2 separate regions of the Homo sapiens genome follow, and region 1 is linked to region 2. Evidence: fine-mapped expression QTL. A gene starts in region 2. The other region holds a variant in brackets. All regions are shown on one strand. Distances are from middle to middle.

Region 1 (9,821 bases), 22 kb after region 2:
TATCTCAATTTAAGATAAATATTTTGTAAACACTGCATTCTGAGCAGAGCTGAACAGTCCAGATATACAAAATTCAGAGACTGCAGAGATACTCTCTTCCCACTATAGTGTTGTCTTTATAGGTAGCCTTAGGAAAAAAATAGCCTTCCCATGACTTCTCCAGGTTTTTTCTGAGAGGAGAGGTCCCACCCATTTATTAAACACCTTTCAAGTCCAAACACATCCTATCATTGGCCCTATCTTTATGATTGTACCTGCTACTCAGATACATTCCTTTTTCCCTATTTTTATTGCCACGGTTAATGCCTTCACAATATTTTTAGCCTGTTTATTGAAATGGCTTGCTTTCTGGGTTCCCATAGTGCTACCAGAAATAACGTTTTAAAACATAAGTCTAGGCCGGGTGCAGTGACTCACTCCTGTAATCCCAGCATTTTGGGAGGCCGAGGTGGGTGGATCACCTGAGGTCAGGAGTTTGAGACCAGCCTGCCCAACATGGCGAAAACCTGTCTCTACTAAAAATACAAAAAATTAGCCAGGCGTGGTGGCGGGTGCCTGTAATCCCAGCTACTCGGGAGGCTGAGGCAGGAGAATCGCCTGAACCCAGGAGGTGGAGGTTGCAGTGAGCCAAGATTGTGCCACTGCACTCTAGCCTGGGTGACAAGAGCAAAACTCCATCTCAAAAAAAAAAAAAAAAAGCCATAGATGAAACATAAGTCTAGTATGATTCTACATACTTCTGGAAAGAAAAAGTTCCCACCAGAAGTTTGGTGCTCTTTAATCTGGCCTCAACCTTTCCTATATATGTGCATATAAAATACATACAAAAGAGAAAGTGTGTATGTGTGTAGTTTAAATTCTTGCCCTCTCTGATCTGATCTCTACATCAGCCAGAAAGTTCTTTCTAAAACATAGGTTCTGACATTGTCTGCTTCAAATTTGACAGCTTTCTGTTGCACTAGGAATAAAACCCAGACTCCTTACCTTGGCTGACAGATCTCTTCATATTTGGCCCCTGCCCACCTTGTCACATGACACATTCCCTCTCCAGCTCTAAGCTCCTGCCGCTGGAATAAGCCACATTCTCTGATGAAGCCAGACTATACCATACGGGATTTCTTTCTTTAATTTGTGGAAACATACTGGGCATGTTATCCTTTATATATTTTGAATATCATTCCTGGGTTACAAATACATTCTCCCTGTCCCTTTTTTTAAGGTTTGAATTTATATTTTTGATATAGTAATACTTTCACATGATTCAAATTTCACAGAATGCAAAAGTATATCCAGTGAAAAGTGTTTCTCCATACCCCTTCCAGAAACCTCGTTCCCCTATCTATAGGCATCCAGCATTAACAGATTCATCTATATATCTTTCAGAGATATTTTCTGCATATACAAGCAAATACCATTACTTGGATTTTTTTAACCTTTTTGTGGTGTATATTGCTACAAAGAAAACATTTTTATTTAGCTAGTTTGTGACCTTTGGTTTCTTAAGTCAGGAACATCATCTCAGTCCCAAAATTAGTAAGTTTTTCCTATATTTAAAAAAATTTATAGCTATAAATTTTATATTTAGACATTTAATCCACTGGAATTTTTTCAAGACATAGTGTTAGAGATGGATCCTTATATTTTTCCTAAAGGACTGCAAAGTGTGCCAACATTACTGTTTGACTAGTTTATCTTCCACACTGATTAGCAATGCCACGTTTAATGCATACCAAATTCCCACATATAAATGGGTTTGTTATTGGACACTTCTGCACCATCCATTTGTTCCTGTGCTAGTGCCATACTTTTATAAATGTAGCTTCATACTGTATAGTTAGGTAAGTTCCCTTTCATCCTTCTCTGTAAAAAATGTCTTGACTTTTTCTGCACATTTACTCTTTCAATTAAAAAGCCTATCACATTCCCCCCAAATGAAAAACCTATTCGAATTTTTATTCAAACTAGTCAAACTAATGCCATTTTCTCTAGAGAAAAAAAATCTTAGTATAACTTAGGAACTTAGTATAGCACATACTATTATATAAACTTAGTATATACTGTAGTATAAACCTAGTGTATACTTAGAAACTTAGTATACCTCTGATTGATTCATATCTTTGATGTCTTTCAGGAACATTTTATAGTTTTGTCATGGATCTTATTAAATTTATTTCTAATATTTCAACCTCATTTTTTCCAATCAGTCAGTTATACCAGATTTTTTTGCCATTCTCTGCACCTTTGCTTATTCAGTTAGTTGCCTTAGCCTGAAGGCAAGTTAACCACCTTCCCCATTATGCTCACTGACATCTTACCAAGGTTTTTAAACCCTTTTCAGTACCATAATATTTCAGTATCATTCAAAGACTAGGGCCACATGCCAAAGCACTATGCTGGGGGTTGAGATTAAAATAGTTGTAAGACTGCACCCATCTGTGGTCTTGTCAAGCATAAGGGACAAACGTATAAGGACTTTTACTTAGCCTTTTCTTGGAATTTGGCTTATTCTTCTACCCCTCCCCTACCTGCCCACTGGTCTTGAACTCCTGACCTCAAGTGATCCACCCACCCGGGCCTCCCAAAGTGCTAGGATTACAGGTGTGAGCCACCGCACCTTTACCTCTTTACCTTGTTTTATAGTCATATACATGTCTTCAGATAGGATATCAGCTTGTTGAGGCCAGATACCTGTTTTAGGCATCTTTTATTTCTCTTCCCACATTACTTTTAGTTGGATTTCATCTTCTTCTTTTTATATCTATTATTGTTTAGCCTTTTGTCTTCTCCACATCAAATTATTTAATGTTGGTTTTTTTTCCTCTTCACAAATTAAACTGTGACCCTTTTGTTTTCCTTTGGCAGGGTTGGAAGAAAGAACGTGTAGTAGCAGAGTTTTGGGATGGGAAAATCGTGTTGGTTCTGCCACATGATCCAAGCTTTGCTATCAAAAAGGTATGGAACATTATCTTTTTATCTCTTGCCTTTCCCCACCCCCAAGAAATCAACCTATGTTGAAGTGCAAACTGCCTTTGCTGACAGATAATTCACTTGGGTACCTGCTTAATGATTACTTTCATAGCAATTTATACAAAACTAAGAATTGTAGGACAAAGGAGTAAAGAAGGCAGATAAGGCTCCACAGCTTATCTTTTATATTCATCTTTCCCTTGTGAAAGATAAACTAAGCTTTCAATGTTGAGAAATTAATGGCCCCCAGGGTCTATTTCTTATATTGGTGTTGCTTGTGTTTCTGAGGTTGAATGTTTAGCCACCGTGAATAATGAATAAAGCTAAAACAAATCTGTTTTAATGCTTCCTATTCCTTATCCCTCCCAGGTGTCTCAATTTCTGCTGAAAGTGATCTTTAAAATAGGTTCTTAAAACCTTGTTTCCACAGTAGCAGCTACATGCATCAATAGTGAAATAATTTTGGAGGTGTATAAATTTAAGAAATAGAAATTAAAGAGGCTAAAGTAACAGTAATCATACATTCTGTGTATATAAATATGTATAGTTTCTATTGTACTTTTTAAAACATTCACCTGTCTTGGTTTTTAAAATCATTAGGTAGAAGATGTCCAAGAACTTGTTGATAATGAATTGGGCTTCCAGCAAGTTGTTCCTAAATGTCCAAACAAAATAAAAACTTTTCTTTTTATATCTGATGAAAAGAGAGTAGTTGGGTGTTTAATTGCAGAACCCATCAAACAGGTATGGTATATTTGTTTTAAATTATTGGCATAATTTGCAGGCAAAATAAAGAAAAGTTGGGAGAAGTCTCAGCATTTAAGATTGCTACCATTAATGACACTCTTCCTACTGAAATATCCTTGACCTAGTGGATAATTGAAGTTATTTATTTCCATTAATATTTGGAATTTTGCTTTGTATAAACAGGATAGGTAAGCCAGTCTTTTATGTTCATGTAGTCATTAACACAGCTGGATTATAAAGTCTAGTGATTTTAAGTAAACAAATCTATAAACTGAAATTTTTAAACATGTGGCTTAGTGAAGGTTAATATTTTTGGCAAAATAGTCATTACTTATCCCTTAATTAGAATCTAATTTAGGTACTAATTAGCAATGTTCTAGAAGACATGTAGTTTCTCCTTGTGTTATTAGAAGTTGGAGAGAAAAGCAGCTTTTTTGTATTTTTGCCAGTATAAGTGATCAGTTTGGCCTTTTCCTTCCCCCTCAGCTTTATTAAGGTATAACTGACAAAAATTGCAAATATTTACAGTGTACATGTGATATTTTGATATAGGTATACATTGTAAAATGACTAAATCAAGCTAATATAGCTATACCTCACATACTTACCAACTTATTGTGATGAGAACATTAAATCTACTCTCCTTGCAATTTTCTTTTTCTTTGTTTTTTTTTTTTTTTTTCTTTTTTTGAGACCAAGTCTCACTCTTTTGCCCAGGCTGGAGTGCAGTGGCACGATCTCGCCTCACCACAACCTCCACCTCCTGGGTTCAGGCAATTCTCCTGCCTCAGCCTCCCAAGTAGCTGGGACTACAGCCGCGTGCCACCATGCCTGGCTAATTTTTGTATTTTTAGTAGAGACGGGGTTTCACTATGTTGTCCAGGCTGATCTTGAACTCCTGACCTCCTGATCCACCTGCCTCAGCCTCCCAAATTGCTGGGATTACAGGCATGAGCCACCGCACCCGGCCTTTAGCAATTTTCAAGTATACATTAGCTGCAGTCATGCCATACAATAGATCTGCAGAACTTACTCATGCGAACTTAAACTTTGTACCCTTTACCAACGTTTCCCCATTTCTCCCATCTCTCACTCCCCCAGCCTCTGGCAACCACCATTCTACTCTGCTTCTATGAAGTCAACTTCTTTAGATTCAGTATGTAAGTGAGATGTTGCACTATTTTTCTTTTTTGCTTGACTGATTTCACTTAGCATGATGTCCTCCAGGTTCATTCATGTTGTTGCAAATGTCAGGATTTCCTTTTTAAAGGCTGAATAGTATTCCACCTGTATATGTACCACATTTTCTTTATTCATTCATCCATTGATGGACACTTAACGTTGATTACATATCTTGGCTATGAATAATGCTGCCATGAACATGAGAGTACAGATTTCTCTTCAACATACTGATTTCAGTTCCTTTGGATATACACTCAGAAGTGGGATTGCTGCATATGGTAGTTGCATTTTTATAGTAATCATTCTAACAGGCGTGAGGTGATCTTGTTTTAATTTGCATTTCCTTGATGAATTAGTAATGTTGAATGAGCATTTTTTCATATGTCTGTTCCTGATTTGTATGTCTTCTTTTGAAAAATATCTATTCTGGTTCTTTGCCCATTTTTTAATCAGAGTATTTGTTTTCTTGGTATTGGGTTATTTATATATTTTGGATATTATCCCCTATTGTATAC[A/G]CAAATTTTTTTTCCAATCAGTAGGTTGGTTAGTTTGTGTTTATCCACTCTGTACTATGCAGAAACTTTTCAGTTTGATGTTACATTTATTTCTTCTTTTATTGCCCACATTTTTGGGGTCATAGCCAAAAAATTATTGCCCAGACCGATGTCAAGCTTTTTTCTCATTTTTTTCCTTATAGTTTTACAGTTTCAGGTCCCTCATTTTAAGTCTTTCATCCATTTTGAGTTGATTTTTGTATGTGGTTTGAGATAAGTCTCCAATGTTATTCTTCTGTTTGTGGATATTCATTTTTCCCGACACCATTTATTGAAGAGACTGTGTCCTTGCCCCATTGTTTGTTCTTGGCATGTTTGTCAGACACCAGTTGACTCTAAATGCCTGGATTTATTTTATCTGTTTTGTTCCATTGGCTGCTGTGTTTTTTAATGCCAGTAGGAGTGCAGTGCCCCTCAGCTTTACTCTTTGGTCTAGATTGCTTTGGCCGTTTGGAATCTCTTATGGTTCCACAAGATTTTAGGACTGTTTTTTGTATTTTTGTGGAAATGCCATTAGAATTTTGATAGGGATTGCATTGCATTTGTAGATTGCTTTGGGTAGTATGGACATTTTAACGATATTAATTCTTTCAAGCCATGAACACTGGATATCCTTCCATTTATGTAGATATTCTTCATCTTCTTTCATCAGTGTTTTCTGGTCTTCAGTGTATGGATTTTCACCTCCTTGGTTAAATGTATTCATAAGTGGGGTTTTTTATGCTATTATAAGTGGATTGTCTTCTTGACTTCTTTTTAAGATAGATCATAGTTTGTTTTTCCTGTATAGAAACACTACTGACTTTTGTATGTTGATTTTGTATCCTGCACCTTTTCTGCATTTGTTTATTCTAATAGTTTTTTTGGTGGAGGCTTTAGGGTTTTCTGTACATAAGTTCATGTCATTTGCAAACAGATGATTTAACTTCTTCCTTTAAATTTGAATGCCTTTCTTTTTTCTTCCTAATTGCTCTGGCGAGGAATTCCAGAACTATGTAGAATAGAAATGATGAGAGTTAGCATCCTTGTCTTGTTCCTGATTAAGAGGAAAAGATTTCCACTTTTCATTGCTAAGTATGATGTTAGTTGTGGGCTTGTGATATATGGCCTTTAGTATATTGAGGTACATTCCTTCTGTACCTAATTTGTTGAGAGTTCTTATCATGAAAGGATGTTGGATGCCTTTTCTGTATTGAGATGATCATATAGTTTTGTTCTTCATTCTGTTAATATGGTGTAACACATTGATGTGCATGTATTGAGCCATCCTTGCATCCAGGGATAAAGTCCACTGGATCATGGTGTACTATGCTTTTAATGTGCTAGTTTGCATCTGTTTATCAGGGATATTGGCTGGTAACTTCTCTTGTAGTGTCCTTTTCTGGCTTTGGTATCAGATTAATCTGGCCTTGCAAAATGACTTTGGAGGTATTCTTCAGTTTTTTGGAAGAGTTTGAGGATTAGTATTAGTTCTTTAAATATCTGGTAGAATTTAGCAGTGATGTCATTACAGATGGGCTTTCCTATGATGCAAGTTTTTTTTTTTTTCTTAAACTGATTGAATCTCCTTTTTATTGGTTAGTTTAGATTTTCTGTTTCTTCATGATTTGGTATAGGTAGGTTGTATGCTTCTAGGAATTTATTTCTTATAGGTTACCTAATTTGTTGATATATGATTATTCATAGTCTCTTACGATCCTTTGTACTTCTGTGATAATCAGTTGTAATGTCTCCTCTTTCATTTGTGATTTTGTTTAGTTGAGTCTTCTTTTTTCTTAGTCTAGCTAAAGGTTTGTCAATTATCTTTCAAAAAACCAACTCTTCATTTTGCGAATCTTTTCTATTTTTTGAGTCCCTGTTTAATTTATCTCCACTGATCTTTATTTTCTTCCTTCTACTAACTTTGGGCTTTATTCTTCTTTTTCTAATTATTTGAGGTGTAACGTTAGGCTACTTGAGATCTTTCTTCTTTTTTTATGTAGAACTGCTTTTGCTGCATTCCATAGGTTTTGGTGTGTTGTGTTTCCATTTTCATTTGTCTCAAGAAATTTGTCAATTTCCCTTTTAATTTCTTTGATCCATTGGTTGTTCAGGAGCATGTGGTTTAATTTTCACATATTTGTCAGTTTTCTACTTTTCCTCCCGTCATTGATCTCTAATTTTATACTGCTATGAATGTTCTGTGTGCACTTGAAAAGAGTGTGCATTCATTCCGCTGCTATTGGATGGAATACTATATGTGTTTCTGTTAGGTCCATTAGGTCTGAAGTGTAAGTTCAGTGTTTACTGGCTGAACTCAGTGGCTCACACCTGTAATCCCAACACTTTGGGAGGCTGAGGCAGGAGGATAGCTTGAGGCTAAGAGTTCAAGAACAGCCTGGGCAACATAGTGAGACCCTGTCTTTACAAAAATTAGCCAGGCATGGTAGTGCATGCCTATAGTCACAGGTACCTAGGAGGCTGAGGCAGGAAGATTACTTGAGCCCAGGAGTTCGAAGCTGCAGTGTGCTATGATCGCACCAGTGCACTCCGCTCAGGGCAATAGTGAGACCCTATCTCTTAAGAAAGAAAAAAAAAGTTCATTTCCTTATTGATTTTCTGTCTGGACGATGTATCCATTGTTGAAAGTAGGATCTTGAAGTCCCCTACAATTTTGTATTCCTATCTATTTCTCCTTTCAGAATCCTAAATATTTATATATTTAGGTGCTCCAATGTTAGATGCATATGTATTTACAACTGTTTTATCTTAATGAATTGACCCTTTTATTATATAATTACCTTCTTTGTCTCTTGATGGTTTTTGACTTAAAATCTATTTTGTATGATGTAAGTGTAGGTACTTCCTGTTCTCTTTCGGTTTCCATTTGCATGGAGTCGTTTTTCTGACCCTTCACTTTCAGTCTATGTGAGTCTTTTGTAGGCAATATTTAGTTGAGTCTTGTGTTTTTATCCATTTAGCCACTCTGTGTGTCTTGATTGGCAAACATATTCTATTTACACTTAAAGTAATTATTGATAAATAAGGATTTACTATTGCCATTTTGTTTTGTTTTCTGGTTGTTTTATATATATTCCCTTCTTCCTCTCTTGCTGTCTTCCTTGGGATTTGATGATTTTCTGTAGTGGTGTGCTTTGATTTCTTTATCTTTTATGTATCTACTATAGGTTTTCGCTTTATGGTCATGAGGCTTACATAAAATATCCTATAATATAACAGCCTATTTTAAGCTGATAACAATTTATATCACCTACAAAAGCTCTGCACTTTTTTTCCCTTCAACATTACTAATTTTACAGTTTACATCTTTTTATGTTGTGTATTTATTTAAGAGGCCTTTTCCTTCTTCGATCTCAAAGAAGTAGACTGTTATGTCCTGATAATAGGCAAGATGTAGCTAACTAACTGTTCTCTTCTACTCTCAGGTCAGAAACAATGTTGTGTTGTTCGTAATTAAAAACTAAATACACACCTGTCAGAAGGGTAACAGTAGGTAAAGAATTGAGACAATACCAAATGCTAGTGAGGATATGGGGAAACCAGATCTCTCACACCTTGTTAGTAGGAATGTAAAATATTACAGCCACTCTGGAAAAAGTTTTGAAGTTTCTTTAAAAACTAAACATAGGCCAGGCGCAGTGGCTCACACCTGTAATCCTAGCACTTTGGGAGGCCAAGGCAGGTGGATCACCTGAGGTCAGGTTCGAGATCAGCCTGACCAACATGCTGAAACCCCCCGCCTCTACTAAAAATACAAAAATTAGCTGGGCGTGGTGGTGCATGCCTGTAATCCCAGCTACTTGGGAGGTTGAGGCAGGAGAATCACTTGAACCCAGGAGGTGGAGGTTGCAGTGAGCGAGATCGTGCCACTGCAATCCAGCCTGGGCCACAGAGTGAGACTCCGTCTCTTTAAAAAAAAAAAAAACTAAACATGTATTTACTATATGATCCAGCCATTGTTCTCCTGGGCATTTAAGTAAAACAAAGGAAAACTGATGTACACACAAAAACCTGTACAAGAATGTTAATAGCAGCTTTATTAGTAATAGCCAAAACCTGGTAACAACCAAAGTGTCCTTAAATGCTTTAGGTGAATGATAAGCTATGATACAGCCATATGATGGAATATTACTTAGCTATAAAAAGTAACAAAGAATTGATACACTTAACAACTTGGATGAGTCTCAGGGGCATTATGCTGAGTGGGAAAAAGCCAATCTCAAAAGGTCATATGGTATATGATTTCATTTATATAATATATAACATTCTCATAGCCATGGGGAATAAATTGGTGGTTGTCAGGGACTGAGGATGGGAGAGGGGGTAGTGTGGATGTGACTATAATGAGGAAGAAGATCTTTGTGGTGACTC
Region 2 (17,312 bases):
CCCCAGCCACTCGGGAGGCTGAGGTGGGAGAATTGCTTGAATCCAGGAGGTGAAGGTTGCAGTGAGCTGAAATCACGCCACTGCACTCCAGCCTGGGTGACAGAGTGGGAAACTGTCTCAAATAAATAAATAAATAAATAAATTGTGAATGATTCATATGTGATGATTTAAAATGTACCCAAGAAAGTATGGTCTATATAATTTGAATGGGGTATTTACCATCCAGAAAAGGAAAAGCAAAAGGAAGACACATCTTGGGTAAAGGCACTCATAACAGTCGTAGACACTATGAGTTTTCTGAAAGGCTTTCTAATGCTTTAAGTAGGACTGAGCAAATAGCCAAAAGGTAAGCAAAAAAAGGAAAGAGAAATTTAAAAAATCTCTTTCCCTCAGTCAGGCAAAGTTTGGCTCCCTGATGACACCTGCTGGCTGATAAAAAGAACAGACCTGAAAGCTTTTCAGTGAAAGTAAATCATTCCACTTAAATTGATGTTTCTATCGAGTTCTTGGTCTGAAGTCATAAACACTATTAGAAATAAATGTAATGGGCTAGGAATGCCAGACAATGGGGTGATTTAGAGAAGTAATGTCCGTTCTTACAAGGCAACCTAGGAAAAGTTGATACCTCCAAATGACTCTAAGAGTTCCCAGGGAAAAAGTGTTCCATACATACATACATTCACTTACTTCAGACAACAGATTCTCGCTGTCTCTTAAGCTGGAATGCAGTGGCATGATCACAGCTCACTGCAGCCTACCTCCCAGGCTCAAGCGATCTTCCTGCCTCAGCCTCCAGAGTAGCAAGGACAACAGGTGTGTGTCACTATGCCCAGCTAATATTTTCTTTTATTGTTGTTTTTTGTAGAGACAGGGTCTCCCTATGTTGCTCAGGCAGGTCTCGAACTCCTGGGCTCAAGTGATCCTCTCGCCTCAGCCTGTCAAAGTGTTGGGATTACAGGCGTGAACCACCATGCCTGGCCTCTTACGTTTTTTTCTACAAAGGTTTTTAATGACAGCAAAATGCCACTCCAGAGGGCTCTAAAAATATCATCTAAATTTATATCTGTGACATAAATTATGTATCTAGATTTGTATCTATATATTCCTACAATAGACATTCAAAGGATTCCACAATCTAGTCCATCCTAACCCACTCCTCCACAAAGCCTTCTCAGCTTTCAATCACATTTACTATCTCTGATCTGTCTACTTCGACAGCATTTACTATTCATGTTACTTCATTTTGTCTATACTTTTTAAAAAATAGACCTTAGTACTTTTTCATGATAATAAAGTTGTGACATTAACTTTGGGTGTGATTTAATGGTGAAGCAGTCTGCAGCATATTAACACTTGAGTTTTACATTTCTCCTACTAACCCATAAATCATCACAAGTAACATTGATAGTTAAAGCATTTTTCTTATGTAGCTTAGGAGGTGCTGCTGTCTCCCTATGTGAGCTTGTTCTGTTTCTCAAAAGCTAGTTTATCAAAGTAGGTGAAAACTCAGAACCAACAAACTGGGTGGGGGGCATGGAAGGTGGTGAGTGAGAGATAACACTTACCTGCTGAAAATTTCAAAATCAAATGCTTTTGAAAACTTACTTTCATATTTATCTTTTCCCATGTAAATAGTGTAGGCAGATGAATTAACTAAGATAAAACAAAAATAAAAAACAATTAGTAACTTCATCACCAACAAAATTGTTTCATGTGAAAAACAAGTGACAATTCTTAGACTAGGGGCTGGCAAACCATGGCCCATGATCCAAATCCAGCCTACCACCTGTTTTTGGACAGCCCTTGAGCTAAGAATGGTTTTTACGTTTTTAAAGGGTTGGAAAAAAAGCAAAACAAAGAAGAATAAGCCACGGAGATTGTAGGTGACTCACAAAGCCTAAAATATTTACTATCTGGCCCCAAAAGAGAAAGTTTACCATCCTTACTAATAGCTACTTTCCTACTTTCTCAGGGTTACAGTTCAATGGTATCGCCAGTCCAGTCCTATACTTTTGCCTTCTTTAAGAGTTAAAAAAAAAAGAAAAGAAAAGAAAACTAAACACCACAACTAAGTTCCCATGTTTACCAAAGTTTTATTGTGCATAATTGTTTTTAGCCAATATTACCCATATTCCAGGTGTGCTGCATATTCTAACAGGCTCTCTATCACATTCAGGGAGACCATGACTCTCCAACTTCTAAACCAGTGACTCTGACCCCTGATCTACATTAGAATCATCTAATTATGCCCCAGCTCCACCTCAGATCAACTCAATCCAAATCTCTGGTGGGCAAGAGTGAGCATCTGTGTTTTCTAAAAGCCTTCCAAGTGATTCTAATATAAGGTCAGGGTTAGAAACAACTATCCTAACTCAAATGGAATCTTCTGGGTATGGTTTATCCTAGAAATGATATTTGCTTTACCAAGGTGGTGTTTTATTGCAGACGTCCCTACCTTGGATTCCTACTGAAAGGATAACTGAGTGCCAGGTTTCAAAGCTAGTTTACCAAAACTTGTTTGATCCAATTGGACTAAACTCCTGAATTCATAGACACTGGGCCCTCAGGCTACAAAGCCTGTGATGGAGAAGTACTGAAAAATAAATACACACTGAAGCAAAGTACTGATAAGTGCAGGGTTGGGCTGAACAGCCTGCTGGCTATCACTCCACAGCACAGAACACACACATGTACCTGGAGCCCTGAAGGACAAAGGGCAATACGCTCTCCTAAATTAAAAAGCCTTATATCAGAGAGATGCCCTGTACTTTCAGTAATGAGAAGCTTCTTAAATGATCAATCCTAGTTGCCTTTCTCGGGGGAGAGAAAACTAATTCCTTTGTTTAACATTTATAATAACTGAAGTCCAGAAGTAGTTGAGAAAAGTACCTTGAAAGAATGTGTGCATCGCCAAGTTTATAGAAATGCTTGTCTATTATTGAGCATTGTAGTACCTTGATCAGGCCTTAGTGTAGCGTGTAACAAATGCCAAAAGGGTGGGAATAAAACTAAAAAGCATTTCAGATTTTCTCTGCATGGCCTGGCAATAGTTCAAGTGTATACCCTTTCAATCCTATAACGTCACTACCTATAATGTTACCATAATAGAGTACCAAAATACTCCACCAAGCAATAATCTTTTTACAACCTAAACATCCCTTAATAGAGACTCTTTAAATATATTACAGATTTGAACATCCATAAACAAAATACCATGTACCCATTAAAAAGAAACGGCAGGTGAAGAAATTAAATATCCGAACAGTATTTTTGTGTATCTATATGATTCAATTTATAAAAAATAAATGATTATAATGGTATGTGTGTGTATATACATACACATACATGTTTTATTTTTATATAAGCACATACTTCATATGTATGGAAGCATAAACATTTTTTAACAACAGTTACCTTGGTTAGCCTGCTATAAAACATACAGATGGCTTTTGTAATTAGAACAGAATTTTCAAAATAACAATATAGGCCAGGTGCAGTGGCTCACACCTGTAATCCCAGCACTTCAGGAGGCCGCGGTGGGCAGATCACTTGAGGCCAGAAGTTTGAGACCAGCCCGGCCAACATGTTGAAACCCCATCTCTACTAAAAATACAAAAATTAGCCAGGTGTGGTGGCACACGCCAGTGGTTCCAGCTACTGGAGAGGCTCAGGCATGAGGATTGCTTGAACCTGGGAGGCAGAGGTTGCAGCGAGCCAAGATCATGCCACTGCACTCCAGCCTGAGTGACAGCAAGACTGTCTCAAAAAAGAAAAAATAATAACTGATATAAAATATTAATAAAGTTGTCTCTGCAGGCCAAGCTGTCTAAGCTACAGCCAAAATAATAATAGAGGAATGTTTTGATGGTTGACTTATTAAATGAGGTGATTAAGAAAATGGCCATAACAAACCTAAAGTGAGGGGCATTCTACAAAATAATTCAACTAACAATGCCATGAAAGACAAAGACTGAGCAATTGCTCGCGATTAGAGGAGGCTACAGAATAATGACACCTGAAGAATGCAACAATGATTTGTAAGGTATTTTTTGTTACAAATACATCATTAGGACACTAATGGGTACGGAATAAAGCCTGTTGATTAGATAATCGCATTGCTGCAATGTTAATTTCCTAATTTTGATGATGAAAAACGTCTTTTGAGAAGAGAATGCCCTTGATTTTAGAAAATAAATCTGAAGCATTCAGGGGTTAACTGCAACTTACAAACGTTTCAGGAAAAAGGTGTGTGCAAGAGAAAAAAATAGAGAAAAAGAGAAACGGAAAAAGAAAGACAAGGCATGTAGTAAAATGTCAGAATTTGTAGTCACAGTGGCTCACGTCTGTAATCCCACCACTTTGGGAGGCTGAGGCAGGTGGATTACTTGGGCCCAGGAGCTCGGGACCATCCTGGGCAATATGAGGAAACCCTGTCTCTATAAAAAAAAAATTTTTTTAATTAGCTGGGTGTGGTGGCTAAAGTGGGAGGATCACTTGAGCCCAAGAAGTTGAGGCTGCAATGATCTGTGACTGCACCACTACACTTGCCACTACACTTCGGCCTGGGTGACAGAGCAAGACTGTCTCAAAAAAAATTGGGGGACTCTGGGAGAATATACAGGAAATCTTTTACTATACTTGCAACTTCTCTGAAAGACTGAAATTATGTCATAATAGAAAATTAGTCTGGGCGCAGTGGCTCATGCATGTAATCCCAACACTTTGGGAGGCTGAAGCGGGAGGATCACTTGAGGCCAGGAGTTCAAGACCAGCCTGGCCAATATGGCGAAACCCTGTCTCCACTAAAAATTCAAAAATTAGTCAGCCGTAGTAGCACATGCCTGTAATCCCAGCTACTAAGGAGGCTGAGGCAAGAGAATCGCTTGAACCTAGGAGGCAGAAGTCGCAGTGAGTCGAGATCATGCCACTGCACTCCAGCCTGGGAGACAGAGCAAGACTCCATCTCAAAAAAAAAAAAAAAAGAAAAGAAAATGAAAAATAAAAAGGAACATCATTGCTGCACAACAAGTCTGAATTAAGTTCCTTTCCATGTTAAGAAGGAAAAGTAAACTGAATTATTCTAGTTCATTTGTTATTCTCATCTAAATAATATGGTTGATTAGTACTGGAACCGGTTATTTGGAAGACACTTGACTTACGGGTAGCAACCAACCCAACTTCAGAGGTGATCTGATTATTTCACAATTTATAGAACAATCTACTTTTAGGCAGATGATATTAACAGGTATTAAAAGTACAAGTGGACTTTGAGCCAAGTATCTATAATCAGATGGTCTTAAATGTGACACTGGACTTATTAGACTAATGTTCAATTATTCCCTTATGAGACAGCATGAAAGAATGAAAATGGAACACATTTTAGTCAGATATTAATCTTAAAATGTAAAAGAACAACTTCCTATGAAGATTTTCTTCCCATTTTAAAAAAGTTTTTATGCAGTAAAAACCATCAGTTAGTTAAAAACTTGGCAAGCCATACAAATTCATTTCCTGAAGATTCTATATATTTGTTGTTTCTATACTGCCAATATGTAAAGTCTCATTACTATTTTACTGAGAAAGTTATGATTTTTCCATTAACTTTGCAGTTTTAAAAGATCAGCTGCACAAGTGCACTTTTATTAGGCTTAGAGGCCAAATATTTTTCTAACAGGAAACAGTTCTGACATTATAATGGAAGTCAATGAAAAAAAAACAGGACCCACAAATCTAGTGAAGCATTTTGCTCTATTAAGGGCAGATGTGTATGTGTGACTAACACTTAAAGAATTCAGAGTAACTTTAAGGGGAATAGAACAGCACAAAATACATTCAGTACCTATACACCCTGCCTGTATATTTGTTTTTCCATTGTTGGGTTTATATGGATATCTATGTTGTTGAAGATTCACAACTGGAGAAGTTATAAAGAGATGCCTGAGTTGCCAAGGACGAAAATGCTTAGAGGCCTATAAGGGTATATGATTTTTCAGGCTGGTTTTGAATTTTGTTTCTAGTAATTTTAATAATATGGGTAAAACAAACCACATGTACAGAGACAGAGAAATAGCTCATGGCACACACTGTGGAAGGCTAAACTACTGAGAAAAATAAGGAGATGTCAGTGTGATGAAGGTGGAAGAGTAGGGTCTGTGAGTTACAACTTCCCTGAGCCTCAATCTTACTTCTAAAGAGAAAGTATTGCCTTATTCAAACCCACACAAACAATGTGGAACTAGTTTCACTTAAATCTTACCTTTTGGCTGAGCGTGGTGATTCACGCCTTTAATCCTAGCACTTTGGAAGGCCGAGGCGGGTGGATCACTTGAGGTAAGGAGTTCGAGACTAGCCTGGCCAATATGGTGAAACCCCGTTTCTACTAACAAAATACAAAAATTAGCCACGCATGGTGGCGTGTGCCTGTAATCCCAGCTACTTGGGAGACTGAGGCAGTAGAATTGCTTGAACCCAGGAGGTAGAGGTTGCAGTGAACTGAGATCACACCACCGTACTCTAGCCCGAGTGACAGAGGGAGACTCCATCTCAAAAAAACAAAAAACAAAACAAAACAAAAACTCACCTTTTGTAATTCCAGCACTTTGGGAGGTTAAGGTGGGTAGATCACTTGAGCTCAGGAGTTCAAGACCAGCCTGAGCAACATGATGAAACCCCATCTTTACTAAAAATACAAAAATCAGCCAGGCATGTTGGCTGGTCCCTGTAATCCTAGCTGTACCAGAATCGCTTGAACCCAGGAGATGGAGGTTGCAGTAAGCTGAGATCGTGCCACTGCACTCTAGCCTGGGTGACAAAGCAAGACTCCGTCTCAAAAATAAATAAAATAAATCTCACCTTTAGACCGGGCGCAGTGGCTCATGCTGGTAATCCCAGCACTTTGGGAGGCTGAGGCAGGCAGATCACCTGAGGTCGGGAGTTCAAGACCAGCCTGACCAACATGGAGAAACCCCGTCTCTACTAAAAAAATACAAAATTAGCCAGGCTTGGTGGCGCATTCCTGTAATCCCAGCTACACAGGAGGCTGAGGCAGCAGAATCGCTTGAACCCGGGAGGCAGAGGTTGCAGTGAGCCGAGATCGTGCCATTGCACTCCAGCCTGGGCAACAAGAGCAAAACTCCGTCTCCAAAAAAAAAAAAAACAAAAACAAAAACAAAAAACTCACCTTTAACAAGCATATAGAGTAGCAATAGAATAGAAAGTGCTATAAGTAAGTAAAAAAATGGCATTCATTTATTCAACAAGCATTTATTGAGAACTACTAACCAGTCACTACGTTAGGGAAACAAGTACAGTAGTCCCCCCTTATCTGTGGGGGATGTCTTCCAAGATCTCCAGCAGATGCCTGAAACCGAGGACAACACTGAATTCCATATATAAAGGGACTTGCCACATAATGATGCTTTGGTCAGCAACAAACCACACATACTATGGTGGTCCCATAACATTATAACGAAGCTGAAAAATTCTGATCACTATTGCCTGATGACCTGGTAGCCATCATAACAGCGTGGTGCAACTCACTTTTTCTACGTTGAGACCCGTTTAAATACACAAACACCATTGCGTTACCATTGCCTACAGCCATTCAGTACAGCAACGTGCTGTACAAGTTTGTACCCTAGGAGCAACGGTATACTGTACAGCCTACATTTGTGGTAGGCTATACCACAGGTTTAAGTATACTCTACCGTGTTGCTACAACAATGAAACCGCCTAATGGAGCATTTCTCAGAATGTATTCTTGTCATTAAGGGACGCATGGCTACTGGTATTCCCTATATATGTATACCTATGATAAAGTTAATGTATCAGTTCGGTGGAGTAAGAGATTATTGACAATAACTAATAATAAAATAGAACGATTATAACAACGTACTGTAATAAAAGTTAGGTGACTCTGCTCTCTCTCTCTCTCAAAACCTTATTGTACTGTACTCACTCCTTTTCTTCTTGTGATGATGTGACCACGGAAAGCGAAATACAGGACAAGTAGGGACTACTGTAAAGAGATCCTGTCCACGCCCTCAAGGGACTTACACTCTAGCTCAAGCAGACACCATTTAATACCACGTGATAAGTGCAATGCCAAAGGCATACTTGGAACGTTAAGTGGGTCCCAGGAAAGGAATAGCTAAGCAATCTTGGGGTAGGAGCTAGCATCAGGAAAGGCATCTTGGAAAAGATGGGCCAAAACTGTCTTAAGGGAATTAGCTGGGGGTTGATTTTAGGAAAGGGGAATAACAGGAACAGAACGAAACCAAGTCGGGACACTGCATTTCCTGGGAACGAAGGGCACCCTTTCCTTATCTGTCAAAGATAAGTCAGAAGCATTACCATAGGTCACTTCTGAGATCTGGGACATCAACTGCCCGGAGAGTGGCTGGGTGGACATCCCAGGGTCTTTTTATTGTTTTCTGTTGCATCCCAGACCCTACAACCCCTTCCTGAAAGGGTAAGTCGCGCTTCCCTTAAGAAAAAGTTGTTAGCAGGTGTCTCCTTTCTCACAGGGGATAATTACAAGGGTTCAGCCAGAACAAAGGCCGCAGATGGAAGGTGGGAAGAAGACTTGGGATAAGGTGTGTGGAGGAGCCCACAGGCTCTGCCCAATCCCAGGGAGTGACGGGACGTCTTTCCGATTAGGGGACGAGAACTCCCCGATACAAACATAGCAGTGGCATCGCCCCTCCGCGCCCCCCACGCCATGACGAGGGGACGCCGGGGGAAATCCTGCAGCCGTGGGAGGGACGGATGTGCTGGGGGACCGAGAGGCCGCGGGAAGAGGCACTCGCATCCAGAAGGCATTTTAGAGCGAGGGTCAGGCGCAGCGGCGGACTGCGGGTCCCGGCTTCGGAGCCCGCTGTCCAGCAGGGTCCAGGAGGACGTGGCGCCCACTCACCGCTGCTGCTGGTGAAGTAGAACACCATGATCCCGGGAGCGGTGCGGTGACTCCACCGCGGAGCAGCAGCGCTCAACTCACGAAGCTCAGGATACCAGACTCGCGGCGGCCGCCTGGCCCCCGGAACTCCTCCGTGCACTTCCGGCGGACGTCGGGGCGCGTCATAACGCCGGCCGTGGGCGCCATTTTTAATCCTGGCGAGGCGAAGTGTAGTGGCAAGGAGTTTGGTTCAGTGATTTGTGGGTTAAGGGAAAGAGGCTGGGCATCTTGGGCACGTTAGTTAACCTGTCTGTGCTTCACTTTCCTCAGCAGCGAAATGAAGATGATACTAGAGCAGCTAACTCACAGGATATTTTTTAGGGTTAAATAAGTTAATGGGCGCCAAGGGTTTAGAACATAGCACACAAACGAGTTGTTTCTGATACTCACCAGGACAATATGCCTCTTGGGGATTGGACTTTGTTCTGGCTTAAATCGAAGGCCTGCCATCCCAAACCTCTGAACCTCAGAGGTCCTCCTGCTATAAAGTAGGAATAATCATATTCATGTAAAGCTCCTACAGCACTTGGCTTTGCCCTGATTATTTCTCTTGAGAAAGCACTTTTATCTGAGGAATGTGAGTCCCTTTAAATTACTAGGTCTGGAGAGGCATTAAGATAAGACCCCATCATGTTCTACCACCCCCTTGAGCTATGTATTCATCTACTGAAACTACCTGCTTCTGCCACAGGTAGCTACCTACTAACCTAACACTGCCACACAAGACACTATGACATGACCCACACCCTATAGTTTAACAATGTCTAGCCAATCACTGATGCTTGTAGTTTCTATACATCAATGAGAATGCTTGACAGTTGTGTATCAGCCCACTTCCTGCCCCCCTTCTTCGTCTTTAAAAACCTGCTTGTAGCAAAGGCCAGACAGAGCTCATATCCAAGCCTGCTGGTGGAGGGCGGTGGGGGGAGGGGGGTTGGAATCTTCTGGGCAGCTGTCCCCGCTTTAACTCAAGCAAACTCTACATTCTTTTTTTTTTTGCCTCAGCCTTTTCCTTTTAAACTGACACTCTTACATCACTGTCACTGACTTCATTCTATGAAATTGAGGGCGTCACTTAACGAAATTTATTTACATGCTTGCTTTGACAGCATGTATACTAAAATTGGAATGATACAGAGAACTTTAACATGGCCCCTGCTCAAGGATGACATACAAATTTGTGAAAATTAAATTTGAAAAAATAAACATAAAACTCTAAACTTATTTGAAACTAAAAATGTGCCAGAAACACTGTACCAGGAGCTGGTGACACAAAGATAGTAACAATAGCTAACAATAACCGTTTTAGGAACTTTCTGGTTTTCCAAAGTAAGAATTTAGCTCTGTTCTGTAAATAGCAATTGTTTTGGGTTCTCCGTTGTATTATTTGTAAAATGGGAATGGCAATAGATATTAATGCCTTACAGATTGTGGTAAGAAGTAAATGAAACAAAACATGTAAAGCATCTAAGAATGCCTGGCACATAGCAGGTGTTAAGTTTTATATTTTAATTTGAAAAATAAATAGAAACCTAAAGTTACTAATAAAAAAAGTGAAACTGACAATGAAGCTTCAAATGTGAAAAATAAGTGCATCGAGAATCTTGGAGAGGCCTTTATTTATTTATTTATTTATTTATTTTTGAGACGGAGTCTTGCTCTGTCGCCAGGCTGGAGAGGCCATTTTACAAAAATTTCTTACCCCGTGACCCCAGAATGTATCTCAACTTCAACTGGACCGAGAACTACAATTCCCAGAATGCACCTAAACAAGGCCCCGGGAACGGAGTCCGGCGTTGCTGCAGGGGATTGTGGGTGGCGTGGTTTCCCTCAGAGATTTTTCACCTCACCAGGGCGCGAGAATCTTGGAAACAGCCACCAGGGTGGGCGGGGCAAGGGCTGGTGCTCCACCAATCACCGAGCCAGCCCCTGGAAGCGCTGAGCCGTGGCCAATCGGAACGCAGCGGCTTCCTCCTAGCCTGGCGCGCGATTATTTGAAGACGCTCACGGAGCGGCTGGCTAGGCTGAGGAGAGCTCGCCGGGCTCTGAGGCGCAGGTAACCTCTGGAGTAGGCCGAGGCGGGGGGCTGTGGAAGGCTGAGGCGAGCGGGAGACCCTGTGGAACGTGGGGGCGAATGTCACGGGGAAAGAGCTTTTGCTCGGCGCTCGGCAGGTCCGCAGGCCCGAGACCGAAGAAGCCACTGACTCGTTCTCCGCGCTCACAGGCGCCGGGTTTCCCTCTTCCCGACGCCGGCGTTTCCTTGTTTTGGGTTTAGGGTTTGTTTGTTTGTTTGTTTCCCTGACCGGGTTCAGGGTCGGGACGCTTTCCTCTCCTACCTTTCCTCGCTTAGCCCCAGAGGGGTCCCCCCTTAAGCCGCAGCTCGACCTGAATTCCCAGAGACCCTGGCCTTTCAGTTTGTTCATTCATTAATAGCTTTGAAATAACGCTTGTGTGCTGCTTTGGGGGGAATTTCCCTGATCCCAGGGAAGGGGAAGGAAATGAATTCTGACGAGCCACGTAGCCGCCTGCTCGTGCATTCTAGCATTTGTTTTCAGCAGCCTTACGACTTCAAGAGATTTTTATAAAAAGGGAAGCAAACGGCTTGCTCCGGGCTCATCAGCTAGGAAAATGGCAGAGGACTGTGCTTCACCCGTTTTCTTGCTGGGCTCTGATGAAAAGTTACAGACGGTCTCTGCCTTCATTGAAGGCTGTTGAGATGGGGAAACAAGAAAATGTCTTAAATGGACTATTAGGGAAATACAGGGTGCCATGGAAGCAGAACAAGCGCGTGTAACCCTTGGAGGGGTGGAAGGAGAGCAATGTCGAGGAAGACCTCCCAGAAAATAGGGTTTTAACTTGGTGTGAAATAGACTAATTAAAGGGGGTATAATTTTGATAAAGCGATTTTTAATATTTTGATGAATGTGGTTATTGTCATTTCTTTTAGGAATTCAATAAAGAAAATGGCAGCTCTTACTCCAAGGAAGAGGAAGCAGGATTCTTTGAAGTGTGACAGGTGAATCTCAGCCTGTGAATAGAAACTCTTAGAAAAATCCACCTTCTTGTCTCTCTTGTTCTCTCCTATTTTCTAAAATTTTCGTTCTTCCACTAGCCTACTCCTTGTGGCTACAGTGATAACCTGATAACCTATATTCTAATTCTAGCTTGGAAATACATTAAGTTTTCATAATGAATTATTTAGTCCTTTTCAAGGGAATCAAAGCTGTTTTTTAGTTTTTGTTTTTTTCTTTTGACATAGAAGCAGCACATTGAAGAAAGCTGTTTTCTATAGCTAGGAAATATACCAAATCAGCTATTACCTTTTTCCTTTCTGTTCCCCTATAATATTTTACAGTGTTTTGCATACAGTAGATGCTTGTCTGGAAACAATTCTAGAAAGACTGTGTACTCAGATATTAATTACTCTACCCAGGAAAAGCCCCAGGGGGTCAGTTCATTACAGACAGTTATTATAGGGGGCTTGTAAACAATAGAGCAAAATATATGAGCTATAATTTATATATGGCCAACACATAGAAATCGATTTTAAAACATACATGCATATATGTCTATCATAGCTTCTTTGTATATAGTATTTGTTTTCATGAACTCTTTGGGAAGATATTTGAATGTTTTATTTGATAAAGACAGAATTTGAGAATCCTACTGTTAAACTAATAGAAAATTGTGTGTATGGGGGGTACATGTATTGTTTTTAATATGACCTACAAGTAGAGCTTACTTAGCAGTAGATTTATGTAAATTTTGACGCAAAATAATCTTATCAATGGACTTTGTTTCTTTTTATAGCCTTTTACACTTCACTGAAAATCTGTTTCCATCACCTAATAAAAAGCACTGTTTTTATCAAAACAGTGATAAAAATGAAGAAAACCTGCATTGCTCTCAACAAGAGCATTTTGTTTTAAGTGCGCTCAAAACAACTGAAATAAATAGACTGCCATCAGCAAATCAAGGCTCACCATTTAAATCTGCGCTCTCCACTGTATCTTTTTACAACCAAAATAAGTGGTACCTCAATCCACTGGAGAGAAAGCTGATAAAAGAGAGTAGATCTACTTGTCTAAAAACTAATGATGAAGATAAATCTTTTCCCATTGTGACAGAAAAAATGCAAGGAAAACCAGTCTGCTCCAAGAAGAACAACAAAAAACCACAGAAGAGTTTAACTGCTAAGTATCAACCAAAGTATAGACACATCAAGCCTGTATCAAGGAATTCTAGAAATTCCAAGCAAAATCGAGTGATCTATAAGCCAATTGTGGAGAAGGAAAATAATTGTCATTCAGCTGAAAATAATTCCAATGCTCCTCGGGTTCTGAGCCAAAAAATAAAACCACAAGTTACACTCCAGGGTGGAGCAGCATTTTTTGTTAGAAAAAAATCTTCTCTTAGAAAATCGTCCCTGGAAAATGAGCCGTCACTGGGACGCACCCAAAAGAGTAAATCAGAAGTCATTGAAGATTCTGATGTAGAGACTGTCAGTGAAAAAAAAACTTTTGCGACAAGGCAAGTGCCAAAGTGCTTGGTCCTAGAAGAGAAATTGAAAATTGGACTACTGAGTGCAAGCAGTAAAAATAAAGAGAAATTAATAAAGGTAAAGCTAAATATATCACTTTAAAAATGGCTGTATAACAAAACTTCAGTATAAATGACATAGTTGAATAAAATTTTATTTTCTGGACTGCTTTTATAAAGCCAGATAGCATAGTGTTTAGTTACTGTAAGGAGTTTATTTATTTATTTATTTTAAGACAGGGTCTTTCTTTATGACCCAGGCTGTAGTGCAGTGGCACACTGCTCACTACAGCCTCAACCTCCTAGGCTCAAGCAATCCCACCTCAGCCTCCCAAGTAGCTGGTACTATAGATGCACACCACCTCACCCGGCTAATTCTTGCATTTTTTGTAGAGGCTGGGGTTTCACCATGTTGCCCAGGCTGGTCTCGCACTGCTGGGCTATAGTGATCCACCTGCCTCACCCTCCCAAATTGCTGGGATTATGGGTGTGAACCACTGCACCTGGCCCAGCCACATTTTAAGTTCTCAATAGTTACATGTAGCTGGTGGCTACCATATTAGACCATGCTGGTCTAGAACTTCTGTTGCTGACCTCCTGTTTATATCCTTCATCAGAAAAAAAGTTGAGTTTTGTGGGGCAGCTAGGGGCAGAAAGCCATTGAAGCAACCTTAAGAGAGGTTGTCTCCAGATCAGGGCTTCCATGTATGGTGGCTTGTTTATATTCATCACAACCCTTGTAGCTGGAGAAATGATAGGCTTATATGATACCCAGTACACTCAGGCTTATAGTCATGTCTTTCCTAACCCACCTCTCATCATTGCCTTCCTCACTAGTTTCTCTCAAATTCAACCCCAGTCCATATCTCTCGTAATCACCTAAATTTCAAACCTCAGTGGCAAAGATAATAAATTGGTGGCCAGTAAACCAAATCTCACCCATAAATGTTTTGCTTGGCCTACATAATTTAAAAGTTGGAGCCAAAATTATTTTTAAATACAAGAAAAACATTTCTGGTGTCTCATGAAATATTGAAAGCTGAGCCTTCATTTCTACATGGCAATAATCAGAGCTGAATATCAGGCTGAGTATCATACCATTTGACAAATATGGGTTCTTCATTTCTCTAAGTCAGTGTATATCTATCTATTTAGATCAGTTTAGTTTTGATCATTTTACTTACTGCTGCCCTTGTAAGGCATTTAAGTTTTTAGTCCTCACTGTAAATGTTTGTTTTTTTTCCTGTTTATCGAGTATGGCCAAGTAGATTGTTAAATGAGATACGTTCTTGCTAGCTAAGCCATGACAGTCTAATTTTACTAATTCATTTTCTGTTTATATCAACAAAACACTTCTGTGTCTTGATAGGGATTTTGATTACAAGAGTAAGCTTTATCAAAATGTATTAAACTGTGCTTTATACTTATACATTTGTATGAAAATTAAGTTTTTTGAAAGTTTGGGGCGTAACTCAAGCTAAAATTGTCTCAATCCAGTAAAACAAAGGAAGAGTCTGCAGTTTCCCCATGCATCTCCTGATGATTATTCTTATCTGTTTGGTACAGCCTGGTGGTGTACCAAATGAATGGTGACCTGATGAATTCTCTGTAACCAGTGTAACAGAGAATTCTGTAATTCTCTTTTCTGTCTTATTTTCTTTTTCTTAGCTTCACTTTACGGGTTTGGTATTGAGTTAGTTTTCAGTAGTTTGGGAAGCTGGGCTTTTGTGCATTTTAAATTTGTGGAACGGGGCTATGCTCTTTCAAGATTTTGCTAAATACCCATGTCTGGGATTCGTCTCTGCTAGCTAAGGGCGAATCTGATTTTCTGTTTTTTTATTTTGAGATGGAGTCTCACTCCGTTGCCCAGGCTGGAGTGCAGTGGCATGATCTCAACTCACTGCAACCTCCGCCTCCCAGGTTCAAGCAATTCTCTGCCTCAGCCTCCCAAGTAGCTGGTATTGTAGGCACCGGCCACCACACCTGGCTAATTTTTGTATTTTTAGTAGGAACGGGGTTTCACCCTCTCAGCCAGGCTGGTCTTGAACTCCTGACTTTGTGATCCACCTGCCTTGGCCACCCAAAGTGCTGGTATTACAAGTGTGAGCCACCGCGCCTGGCCGGTGAATCTGATTTTTGTGAGGATACCCTTTCCCCAACTCATGGAGCCCTGAAAAGTGTTAAACTGATGGGTTATCCCACCTCTGCTGGGATATTATGGTTTTGAGTAGAAGTTCTACTTTAACCAAGAGTTTTTTTCCTTTTTCCCCAAGCTATATATTCCCTAGTAATTCCCAAATTAGTATGAGGGAAATCTGTCAGGATTTTTTTCTACTTTGCTTTTCCCACATTCCTGCTACTCTCCAGTGACTCTAGAATGTTCTTTCCTTAGCTGCTGATTTTTAAAGTTTATGGCAAAAAGTTGTCCCTTTCCAGTTTGGTGGCTGCTGGGGAAACTTTTGCCATTTTTACTGGCTTTTTTGTTCATTTCATTATGGAAGTGATGGTCTGTAATCATTCTGCCATCTCTGTCAGGAAGTATAACACATTTTTGAGAGGATGACAGATTACAACACGTGTACTCTGGCTTTTTTTTCTTTTGAGACAGTCTTGCTCTGTTGCCAGGCTGGAGTGCAGTGGCACGATCTTGGCTCACTGCAACCTCCGCCTCCTGGGTTCAAGCAATTCTCCTGCCTCAGCCTCCCGAGTAGCTGGGACTGCAGGTGCCACCACGCCCAGCTAATTTTTGTATTTTTAGTAGAGATAGGGTTTCACCATGTTAGCCAGGATGGTCTCAATCCCTTGACCTCGCAATCTACCCACCTCGGCCTCCCAAAGTGCTGGCATTACAGGCATGAGCCACCGGGCCCTGCTGTACTCTGGCTTTAAAGGTAATGTACGCTTAGTGAATACAGGGGAAGTTTTCCTAAAAATAGTTTGAAAATTGATTGAAAATCACATTATGAAATGTAATTCATAATAAACCAAATCTTTTGTTTTAGAAATAGATCTGCTGGGATTCATTCACTAGAAAATAGTTAAAAATTACAGATGTTTGGTTTTTTTTTTAAACCTATTTTCAGGATTCATCAGATGACAGAGTTTCTTCAAAGGAACATAAAGTTGATAAAAATGAGGCTTTTTCTTCAGAGGATTCTCTTGGTGAGAATAAGACAAGTAAGAGAAAACTCGCATGAATTTAGCTGCTTAAAATAATGCTTTATTACATACATTATACAATAATAATTCTTGTAATTTCTGGGTCTTTCTTTTTTCAGTAGCGTGCCTGTGGTTAGTATCTTTGTTTATCTCTGTGACACTGTTTTCTGTAGTAAAGCAGTGCATTGCGTTTTGAAAAACAAGAAACAAGGAGATCCTAGGTTAAAATTTTAGACAAAATATTAGGCTTAATTGGTCTATGGCTGTGGCCAAGTTACTTAAGCTCTCTAGAGTTGAGTGTTCTCATTATAAAATCATACCTACTCTATCTTTCACCCAAAATAATAGAAGTTAAAACTATTATGTATATTTGTGATCAAAGCCCAATTGTGAGCAGAACTTACTAAGTTTTATAAGTGACACTGAAATTAAGCATCAAGAACCATGGATTTTTGTCTAGGTTTACTAATAATTAGCTGTATGATCTAGGAAGATATCTCTAAAGAGTTAAAGTTAATTTTTAAATTCCTGTCAATTCTGAAATCCTATTCCTAATTTATGCTGTCAGTGTTCAATTAAATAGCTTACTAAACTATGAATACATAAAGCTTTTTTTTATGATTCTGAGATATGATGTTAATAACTAGTATTTACTGAGTGC

Evidence for each region.
Region 1: its variant is fine-mapped to the expression of CCDC25 in whole blood (TOPMed, PIP above 0.99). The same link has a PIP of 0.9 or more in blood mononuclear cells.

The regions. Positions count from the first base shown.
Region 1 is chr8:27,789,101-27,798,921 of GRCh38, forward strand. ESCO2 (establishment of sister chromatid cohesion N-acetyltransferase 2) reads left to right here. Exons shown (of 11, transcript NM_001017420.3): 8 at 2,863-2,952; 9 at 3,568-3,711. Among named protein-coding and RNA genes, the nearest start is that of ESCO2, 19 kb to the left of the region's middle. The variant A/G (reference allele first, on the strand shown) is at 5,412.
Region 2 is chr8:27,763,599-27,780,910 of GRCh38, forward strand. It overlaps CCDC25 (coiled-coil domain containing 25), which reads right to left and starts at 9,042. Exons shown (of 9, transcript NM_018246.3): 1 at 8,915-9,042; 2 at 1,606-1,653. The coding sequence starts at 8,942. It overlaps ESCO2 (establishment of sister chromatid cohesion N-acetyltransferase 2), which reads left to right and starts at 10,956. Exons shown (of 11, transcript NM_001017420.3): 1 at 10,956-11,009; 2 at 11,901-11,969; 3 at 12,764-13,571; 4 at 16,576-16,669. The coding sequence starts at 11,917. It also overlaps the pseudogene RNU6-1276P. RefSeq lists enhancers at 8,726-9,035, 10,584-10,733 and a silencer at 10,844-11,013.